2 separate regions of the Homo sapiens genome follow, and region 2 is linked to region 1. Evidence: fine-mapped expression QTL. A gene starts in region 1. The other region holds a variant in brackets. All regions are shown on one strand. Distances are between the middles of the regions.

Region 1 (5,380 bases):
CTCTCAGCACTCAATTCTTTCAAGTGGGCTCACCTTCCACCTGCAGCAGAACCAGGGCCTGGATTTGGCTTGTATCCATCTCAGAACCAGTGTCCATCTGTCCTATCTGTAACTGCTCATGCCAAAACACCATTTCTCTTGAAAGACACGTCATCACTCATGACCCCTTTTTGAAGAAGATTTTTAAAAATCTCTCAGGGATCCCCTGTCATAGATGACTCTGAGAGCTATTTACATGGTGGAATTGGCAGACGTTGGCAATTAATTCGGTTGAGGGAGATGAGAAGAGTCGAGAGAACGGGAGAGAGGGAGAGGTTAGGAAGCCTAGGATGATGGTAGGTTTCTGGCTTCTGTGATTTGATGGGCAGTGGGACATTTTCTTGGTGGGAGATAACAGTGGAGGGCTATTGCTGCTTTTGAGTCAGTTCCACCAAGGCCCAACCTGGGCAGTGGCAGAGGCTTTCCCTTCCAGACCTCCCCCAGGCCCCAGCTGTTCAGGGCCTTACCTTGCACAAGGCCCATTCATTAAGAGGACAATGGGTAAGGGGATCTCGGGGCCAACAGTGCATCACTGCAGCTGATTGATTAATGTCATGCCGGGCAGTCCATGAGCACAGTTTGAAGAAGACTTTGCAGTCATAATTCATAATACTATTTTACCACATGGGGAACAAGGATTGGGGGCATCTCTGGGGACATAGGGTCTCACTGGCACACGTTGCATGTTGCCTTTGAGGTTATTTCAAGATTCACTGAGATTCTAGTCATGGATTATATATACAGATTATGTGTATATGTATATATACACACACACATACACACACATATACACACATACGTATGTGTGTGTTTATATATATGCACATACACACTTACATATATGTGCAATTTCTTTTTGGCTTAAACATCAAAATGTTTTATAAAAGTGTATGTTGAGGTCAAGTGCAGTGGCTCCCACCTATAATCCCAGCAAGGCTGAGGCAGGAGGATCATTTGAGCCCAGGAGTTTGAGACTAGCCTGGGCAACATAGCCAGACCCCATCTCTACAAAAAATAAAAACCTTACCCAGGCATGGTGGTAGGTCTACAAAAGATAAAAAACTTTACCCAGGCATGGTGGTAGGTCTATAAAAAATAAAAACATTACCCAGGCATGGTAGTCCTACCTACTTGGAGGGGCTGAGGTGGGAAGATTGCTTGTGCCCAGGAGTTAAAGGCTGCAGTGAGTTAAGATTGTGCCACTGCACTCTAGCCTGGGTAACAAAGTAAGACCCTGTCTCAAGAAACAAAAAAATAGTGTATGTCAAAATTCTCACTCTCACTCTAACCTCGTCAACCTAGTTCTTCCACCCATCTTCACCCTCATAGCTAATAGCTACTTCTCCAAGTTTCTTACATAGCCTTCTAGCGTATTTTTATGCCAATGCAAGCAATACAAATATGTGTATCTGTCTCCTTGTTTCACAACAGTTGTCTTATTTTAATATTATCTTATTTTATCTATTCTGCACTTTGCTTTTTCACTTAATAAATCATGGAGCTGTTTTATCCAGACAATACATCCAATACAAGTAAATCCTATGCTCCTGGCATATCTCTACTGCTGGGGACTAGAAAATGCAGAGGAAAATAATGAGTGCTTGCACTGACTTTCAAAAATAAGGTTGCATAAAAATGCAATGTCAATAGCAAAATAAATGCCATATGGTTATGAACACATTTAAGAGACAAATATTGTAAAAGAAAAGCACCCATTTTCTCTATTGAGAAATTCATATTTATTTGCCATTCACCAAACATTTACTGAGGGTATGCATTGCCCTGGGCTTGCTGGGTGCTGTGGGGAGGACAAGCAGGGTAGATAGCTCAGAGCCTCCATCTGCCCAGGCCCACTATGTCAACAGCCTCCTTAGGACACCTCTTTCTGCAGCCTTAATCCCCACCCTAGCCAGCACCACACACACTTCAACTAAGGTGATCTTCCCTTCATTCCCACCCAGCCTTTCTCCTGCTTAAACTGCTTCACTGCCCTCCTCCCCACCACCTTCCCCATTCCCTTCCCATCCTAAGGGTCACATTGTCAAATTCCAACCCCTTCACTTGGATCGCAAGGCCTTTGGTGTGCAGTGCCTGCCCTGTAAACCTCACCACTCGCCTGCCTCACCTCTCCTTGCCTGCTGCTGCTAGGTTCCTGCTGTTCTGTCCTGCCTCCAGGCCTCTGTACCCTGCTCCTCTTGTCCTGGAAAGAGCAGTCTTCTCTACCCTTCACCGCCCCACTCATTTGTTCTTATACCTTTTTTTCAGGTATCTTTCCCCAATTACTTGCCCCTGCCCCCAGCCTGACAGGGTTAGAGACTCCTCCTGCCAACTGCAATTGCCTGGTTCCATTCCCTGCTTCCTCCTGGGGTGTGAGTTAGTGCAGCCCAGTCTAATGGGGGACATAGTCATCCTCTAATGCCTGGTTCCATTCCCTGCCTCCTCCTGGGTGGAGTTAGTGCAGCCGAGTCTAGTGGACGGGTCACTGGGCTTCCGAGTCCCAGTCTTGGCTCCTTCTCTAAGGCTGTTTTGTCATCTGTCACAGGCATGCCACGAGAACTTGCCAGCACAGTGGTGGTGATAATTAGAGTTCCCAATGCCCCTTAAGAATGCTCAGTAGACGGGAGCTGGCTTAACCCTCCCCAATCTTCCTCTCCCTCCTCCGTGGACAGAATCTCACACGTCTGTGAACCCCCACGTTCAGCATGAAGTGAGGAGCCCATCGGATGACGGGCCGGCTGGCTGGTTGAAGGCCACTGCTGACTTCGCATTGGAGGTATGGGTTGCTCAGCGCTTTTACCCTTTCTCAGGCATCTACTTGTTGCCTGGGCTTCTCTTCCAAGTTCAACAGTCCCCTCCCAGCCAGTTCTCCGCCGCGCCCCGCCCCCGGATATCTGCAGGGACCCTTTTCCTGCCCGAGGCCTGGGGTCTTGGCTCGAGAGGGGAGCCCCGCCGCGGGGACTGAGCATGCTCGCGCCGGTCAGTCTGGGAGGGCCGCACGCGGGGCCGCAGCCTGCGCCCTGGGCACCCGGGCGGCCGAGCGGGCGGGGTTTGGCCGCCGGGCGGCCCGCCCCGGGCTCCCATCAGGGCCTCGCGGCGGAGAGGGACCGAGGTGGGAGCGCGTGAGCCGCGCCGCCAGCCAGTCGCGCAGCGTCTACCCACGCGGTGCGCAGCGGCTGCGGAGCGGAGCCAGCGGGAGCAGCAGGGCGGGCTCTCCCGGCCGCGAGGGCGCGCGGCGCGGCGCGGAGGGTCTGGCCGCGTCCCGGCGGAGGAAGGAGAGGAGTGAGGGCGCCAGAGGTGAGCGCAGCCCGGGAGGCGCCAGCCCAGCGGCGCGGGCGCAGCCGGTCGGTCCTTGCTTTCTTGCGGCGCTGGCGGCTGCGTTCCCCCGACCGCGCTGACAGCCTCGCGTCCTGGCGCCTGCTCGCTGGGGCTGCCCGGAGGCCGCGGCCGGGCAGCTGTTGCACGGAGAGGGGGGCAGTTGCGGGGTTCCATAACCATAGCAACCGCATCAGCACCGGCGGCGGCGGGCGAGGGCAGCATCCGCTCGCTCCTCCTCCAGGCAGCCTCGCCGCGGGGACCCAACACCAGCTCGCAGGTGCTGCGGACTCCCCAGTCCGCCCGCCGCCGCCGCCGCCGCAACTGTTGGCGGCCAGAGACGGCGAAAGAGGAGAGAGAGGGACCCAGGAGCGCGGCCCCCGGGGGAGAGAGAGGGGAGCCCTGCAGTGGAGACAGGTAGGTGAGAGCGCTTCGGGGTCGGCAGCTGCAAAACTCTCTCGTCGGTGGTAGTGACGCTTCTGCAAGCGTGGTTGCCAGTTGGATGGCTTTCTGTCACGGAACAGCGATTCCGCCGCAAAATGTGGTTTATCTCCCTCGATTTTCCCCAGTCTCTCTGCCCTCCAGGTTTGCTGCACATCTGGACAGGTCTTGAGGGGATAAGAAGGGCCAGGGCTGTGAAAGGAGCGGAGAGGCTGGGTTAATGAGGGGTTCCCCCCAGGAGTCCCAGATGGAGGCTGAGGGGGCGCATGCAGACCTTGGCCATTGGGGTCCTTGGAGCCAGGGAACCCGGGGGCCAGGCTCAGGAGAAGACCGCACTGGGGTGGAGGGGACAGTGGCAGCGATTCCCTGTGATCCAGGCGAATGCACAGACCCGTTCTTCCTGTGGCTTGGCTGGGGACAGGGGTGTGCGGGGACACTGCAGCTCAGCTGTGACATGGAAAGGGACCAGCTCTTGATCTGTAGAGCCAGCTTCAAGCCCAGTCACTGGAGGGGATGTTTAGACGAGGCAAGTAGTAACTGTTATTATTTTGGGACACAGGAGTATCATGTTATTGCCGTTGACTATTAGGGATAGGATGGGAATAGAAATAAAATTTTGAGCTAGCAGTCAAGACTATGCCCTCCCCTTCTCCCCACCTCATTTCTAGCTCCCCACCCCACTTTGCCAGCAAAACAAGAATCACATCGCTCATAGTGACAATCCTTGCTCCTTGGCCACTGGCAAACTATCTCGCTTTCAGACAGCTGGAGACACCGCTTCAGTTGTCCATTTGAACCAGGGGGCATTGTTTTCCATCAGGTTATGATGCTCTTGATGTTAAGTGATGTGTCAAAGCCGAGAGGCACCTGGGCTGTCCATACAGTGTGATGGACTGTTAACTACATCTGCAGGCTGGAGAGAGGGCCAGAGCTTGGGGAGTGATTACAAACTCAGATCAGCTGGGACCAGGGCCCCGGAAGAAGGAAGATAGCATGTGAATAATTAGGGTCTGAAAGTTCGTGCATGTAGGTAAGTAGGCCTCTGAATAATATCCAGGATAGGCAGCCATTGACTTTGAAAGGGCTCTTCCTTTATATCGTGGCCTCGGGGGACAGTCTAAGTCCCAGTTAAAAGGCTATGTTCTTTAATTGGGCTTTTAATTTATGGTGTGGTTATGTTACCCAAGGGGATGTGATTTGGCCAACCTCTCATCTGGAGATTTATGTCATAATATGGATGATGTTATCAGAGCTTAGACAGATGGTTAGGTGTAGAGGAAAGTGGACCAGATTGGAGGGTCAGAAAACATGGATTTGAACTCTGATTTCCTCATGCACCTGCTGTGTGACCTTGAGTTGTTCCACCTCACTGAGGCTTCTTTCTCTCATCTGGAGAATGGGGATACTAACTAACAAGTCTTGCAGTTTACCAGGCTCAATCACAATCCAATGGGATGTGGAGAGGATGTTTGGGAAGGGCTTTTTAAAACCTGATGTCTTGTGCAAGTAAAAGGGATTATTGTTTTCTAAAGAATCTCTCTTCCTCAGATTGGCAAATCATTAAACATCCATCAACTACGAAAAGAGA
Region 2 (5,380 bases), 57 kb after region 1:
TTCTTTGTTGATGTTGTTGTCTCCACAACAGGAGGGTTCCATACACCCTGTCATTTGTTTGCTCTCTAATTCCCAGTATTGGGAACAGCCCTTGTCCCTCAGTCAGTGCTTAGTAAACACTTGCTGAGTGAATTAATTTGATGAATGACAATTTTGAAAATAAGGATGTCTTGGATTAACTAATTAGCAATTTTATTTGTGTGAGTTCTGCCTTTCAGGTTTGGTGTAAGATTTTGAAAAATGTCCTTTTTTTTGTTTGCTTTTGGTTTCCTGCTTTTGTGCTTCATAGTGAAAGACCCAGGTATTTAAGTGGACCCCATATAATACTGATTTCAAGAGTTCAGATCATATTTTCTGGCTCCTTTTTGGAGAATGTCTTTGGAACCCACAGGATCTGGTAAAAAGAAAGAAAAAGAGAAAAAGAAAAGAATATTTGAATGGATAGACCAGACTTCAATTTCTGTCTCAATAACCTATTATTTCTGGGATATTAATTTCCTATTTTATTTGGGGGGATTGATAAAATCTGCTTTACCCAGATGTGATGAGCAACGAGGCTTTTATGGCCTGGCATCAGGGTGGATCATGGGCTATTTCTCTCCTTTGCACACAACTCCACAAACACACAGCCTTGAGATAGGACCTACTGGGGTCTTTACATTCCATTTAATGCAAGCCTTTGGGTGAGTCCTGACTCATCAGTAGCAGCAGCCTCACTGGGGTTGTAATCCCCTGACTTATTAAAGACAAGCCATCCTCGCACACAGGGACGAGGAGGTGCAGGGATGTTCTCCTGACAACCATCACGTAGTCCTTTCTGATTTGTCAGTGGCATTGCATTAAAATTGATCCATTTCCCAAACTCCATTGCTGTCCTTGTCTTATCAAATTATAGACACAGCTAGAGCCCATCAGTCCTTCCCCCTGGGAGTGGGAACTCCTCAGCACAGCAGGGCTTTCTGATACAATGTGGTTTGCTTGGAATTCATTACTAAGGGGACTTGGTGAATTGGAGATCTATTACTTTTTACATTCTGCTTTCTGTGGAGTGCCTGGGATAACATCCTGGCTACTCTCCAGAATGTTTTTGATTGTTTTTGTGCTCCTCTCTTTCTTTCTGTTTTTATTTGCTTTGTTTTATTTTGCTTTGTGTTTGGTGGTAGAGGTCAGGTTGAGACAACACAGTAGAAAAAATAGTAACTCTAGATCTGCGAGGTCTAACCTAAGTCTTAGCTACATCCTATCACTTGACATTTTTAAACCCATTGAAAGAGGATGTTAAACAGCATTCACTTCAAAGGATGTTGTATGTGCCTGACACATAGTAGTACGTGCTCATTAAATGTTTCATGTTGAACAAATAAAATAGTAAACACAGAAATATAGACACACAACCAAACATATACATTGTGCCTATAAAAAGATATTCAACTGCCAAGGTTTTTCATATATATATATATATATATATATATATATATATATATATGGTGTCCATATTCTTCACGTTAAATTTTTTTATTTCCAAATTGAAGATGCTAGGCTAAGACAAGCTGTATTCTAGTTCTATTTCATATACCTTGGACAGATTATGTAATAGTTTAAGACCCTCAGTTTCCAACATTTGTAATATTAAAGGAGGAGATAATACAATGGTCCTTCACATCGTTTGCCTGCTGCATAAGGACTTACAGAACTTGACATACAAAATATTCAACTAACACCAATCTGCATCACTCGGTGTGTGTGTGATTTCCCAACACTTCTCTCTTTTTCCCCCTTATTTCCTCCTTCCTTCCAAATTTCTCTCTCTTTTGCTCTGTAATTATTTATTTGCTGTCTCCTCACACAGCATATTCTCTGTCATCAAGACTGCACTCTTTGAGTCTTCAGACTACCCCCTTCTCACAGCTGCTGAGGGTAAAATATCCTTGCTTCCTAGGTCCACTCATATGATCGAATTTGAATCAAGGTCTCAAGCTAATCTAAGGAAAAAAAAAAAGCAGAGAAGCTATATGGCAGAAAGCAGAGAATTGGAAGGGAAGTCACAAAAGAAGAGAACATACTTGCAGGCATTGTTTCAGGT[A/G]GTGAGTGAAATCTGCAAACAAACAGAAATTCTTTCTCTCGTGGAATGTATGTACTAACTGGAGAAAGCATTGTTTAAAAAATAAGCAAATAGGATGTCAGGCTGTGTTCAAGAGAGTGTATTTAGTTCTTCACACAATAGTGATGCTGATGGATAAAGATTTCCAGTTTGGTCTCAATCCAATAAAACACCCCCATTCAAAGTGTCATTGTCCCACTCTTTCCAACTGATGCCCTAAAGCTCACAGAAGAGACTTGTTGGGTGTGCAAATTTGGCTTTCCTCATAATTCTGCAACCTGCATAAGAAAGTTTTAGTTCTGATTTTCAGCCTTATCTTCCCTGTGACTACATGAAATAAGAGATTATTTTAGGGCTACCCCAGAAACAAACTTGTTCTCTCATCAGAGCTGAGTTGATAGACAGTCTGAAGGCTAGATCTTGTTATTTTCCTCTGTTTACTCTCCAGTGCTGTAAAAAATATCCATCCCAGCATGCTTGTATTCATCATTAACATTGTAGCCACGTGGAGCAGCCACTCGGTCATCCAAGGCACTTGCTAGAGTGAGCACTTCCTCCACTGAGGCTGGAGGGTCTACGATGACTTCACTCACATGTGTGGGGGTCTTGGTGCAGGCGCTAACTGTTCCTCTCTTTCTTTAAGGTCTGTGTTTAGTATTCTAGTGTAGGCTTTGTTACATAGTGGCAGGAACACTCCAAAATAGCAAAGTAGAAGGCTCAGGAACTCACACAGTTTCACTTCTGCATATTCAGTTACCACCCAGACCAAGGGGCATGGAAATTGGCTCTACCTCTTGAGTTGCATGTCATGAAATATCATAGCCACTTTTTCAATCAATTAGAGGAAGCCTACAGTATGAGTATATCTCAGAAATGTGATAGATTTTAAATTGATCTTGCCTTTCTAAAGATGTTTCCCATCTATACTCTGTGAGAGACACCTCTAAAATATCTCATGTCAAAAAAGTATTGGGTAAGGTGTCCAGTAACCTAGGTTTGTGGTCTGGCTCTGGAACTGATTTATGTTATCTTGTAATGATAGCAATGATGATGATTTTGGTGATGACGGTGATGGTGATTTTATTAGATATGATTTAGACAATGCAGTTAGTACTTTCATGTGCATTATTATAAATATTTAAATTCTAATTTTACCTTTTTTGGACTTTTGTATGTATTATCTGTTAAATATAAAGCCCATATTTTACTTTTGTCCTAGATATTTGTCACTATCTTGCACCCATTTCTCCCTCCTAATAGCACCCAGACATTCCTCTAGATGAATTGTCTCTTGAATGTATGCTCTTGGTTGAAAGTAACCCCAGAAATATGCCTTCTTCTGGGGTGGCTTAAGGGTTCCTGAGACATTTATTTGCAAGAGCATAGCCAAAAGCTGGGGCGATGACCTTAATATGGCCAGGAAGCTACCTCTCACCTGGAACTTTAAGTCTTAACTGAGATGAGTCAACACAAAAGAAAACATTATAGTTCCTGCAGCCCAGTGGTGGGAACCTGGTGAGCTTGTCAAGTTCTCACTGATGAGACTGGCAAGAACACCCTGATAGCTCTTAGTTCTTAGCCTTGTTCATCACACTATCTTCCCTATGATCCTCGCACCTGCACTCCAGTTCTCCAGTGGGTCCATTCTTGCACAGGTAAGCCAGGATTAGTGTTGGCATCCCAGGAACCATGACTGCTTCAGTTATCTATTGAATTACTTTAGAAGTACCTGGAGTGATGGAAAGTGCTTGGCCAAAGTTTACAAAGCCCTGTAGCCAATAACTGGTTCCAAATTTCAGGTCTGCCTTTTCTGCTCACATTTCAACATTGGACAGTCAAACTTTCTAAGCACGAATTTCTTCAGTTGTAACATGGGACACAATAATACATCCCTAGCAGAGGGGTTAGGATTAAATTAGAGAGCAGCTGTGAAGCACCTGGGAGAGCTTCTGGCACACAGTAACAGTGGAAAGTTCTGGCACTACAGTAGAAAGTTCTTTCCCTTTCTGTTAATGTTAATGCTTCATCCCCATTCACAGAGACTGGAGTATCCCTTGACTACTCCAGTCAAAGGGAAACCCAACATGACATGTTCCCTCCCCCTAGGAAATGTCCTCCTCTGATGTTATGAGGTCGGCCTATGAAGCTTTACCTTGGAGTTTGAAGATGAGACTGGTGTTTGTAACCCATGAGGACTACTGAGGTCACATGGTGTAGTGGAATGAGAATGGGATTTGGGATCAGGCAGGTCTGAATTCATACCTAATGATGACATATGTGATTAGCTGCTTAATCTTGAACGTCATTTATTGTCCTATGTGCTATGATTCTCTCATATTGACCACACAGGGCCATTATGAAATGATAATTGGTAATTTACATGCAGGTTCTTTGTAACCTAGAAGAATATTATCTTTGTACTGGAGCCTCCTCAAAGATTTTCAGGTATATACACACCAGAAACTTTGCCTTGTACAGCTCCTGGTGGATAAATGAAGGCCTTCAAATGGGCAGGAAATAATCCAATTTCCATGAAAGTTAATTGAGCTCTGTGTTTTCTAAAGGCTAATAGCCTGGTGAGAGATGTCCTGAGTCAAGCTAATGTGATGACCCACTTGTTTTTTTAGGTACCAGTTATGGAACAGAAGCCACATCTGTCACTGATAACCTGTTTGTATAGTGACCTCTTCCACCCCACCCACAAGGTTGCCATGGCAATTTTAGGTCAAGAAGATCATCCCATTGAAAGACAGGAAATGCTAAGGAGTAAAATGCAGTCCCCAGGAAACCTGGTTTTAGTCCTTGCTACATATTATTAAATGGCTGGTCCAGTATCTGGTTGGGACTACTGTGCCAGGCATCATCCTCAGGTGATGTCTGATCATCCTGGCCTGTCTTTGGCAAGAATCCAGTTCAGTGGGTTTTGCCAGAATCCTTTTACTTCTGAGGTTTTCTCTTAGTTGTTTTCCATCCTCTGATCCCTCTCTTGTTCCTTGGTTATATATTTCCCCTTGCTTGTGCTGTATTCAAAATTGAACCCAGTTTTATATTGAAGCATCTTTTCTCCTGTTTCAATAATCCAGAATAGAGTCTGTTTCTACCACTTTAACTACTGCCTAGCTCTGTTTTTTTCTTTGATAGAGCTCAGAAGTGCAATTCAAATTTGATTTGTAGATGTAGCAGCAATCAAGATTTAGCTGGTATTTGAAGACACTCATATTATCACTCTTTCTACTACCCTTTATTATATTTTTTGATTCTGCCCCACATTATTTTTGC

Which allele goes with the higher level. Positions count from the first base shown, and alleles are read on the strand shown. Sizes are in standard deviations (SD) of each study's normalised expression.
For the expression in testis of the gene that starts at base 3,178 in region 1, A is the low allele of the variant in region 2 and G is the other (small effect, 0.14 SD a copy in GTEx).

The links. PIP is the estimated chance that this variant, and not a neighbour inherited with it, causes the effect. A credible set is the group of variants that fine-mapping cannot tell apart.
Region 2: its variant is the best candidate, but not a certain one, in a credible set for the expression of FAM135B in testis (GTEx, PIP 0.74).

What each region holds. Positions count from the first base shown.
Region 1 is chr8:138,495,059-138,500,438 of GRCh38, reverse strand. FAM135B (family with sequence similarity 135 member B) reads left to right here and starts at 3,178. Exons shown (of 20, transcript NM_015912.4): 1 at 3,178-3,768.
Region 2 is chr8:138,438,344-138,443,723 of GRCh38, reverse strand. The region is part of intron 1 of FAM135B (family with sequence similarity 135 member B); the gene reads left to right. Among named protein-coding and RNA genes, the nearest start is that of FAM135B, 56 kb to the left of the region's middle. The variant A/G (reference allele first, on the strand shown) is at 2,084.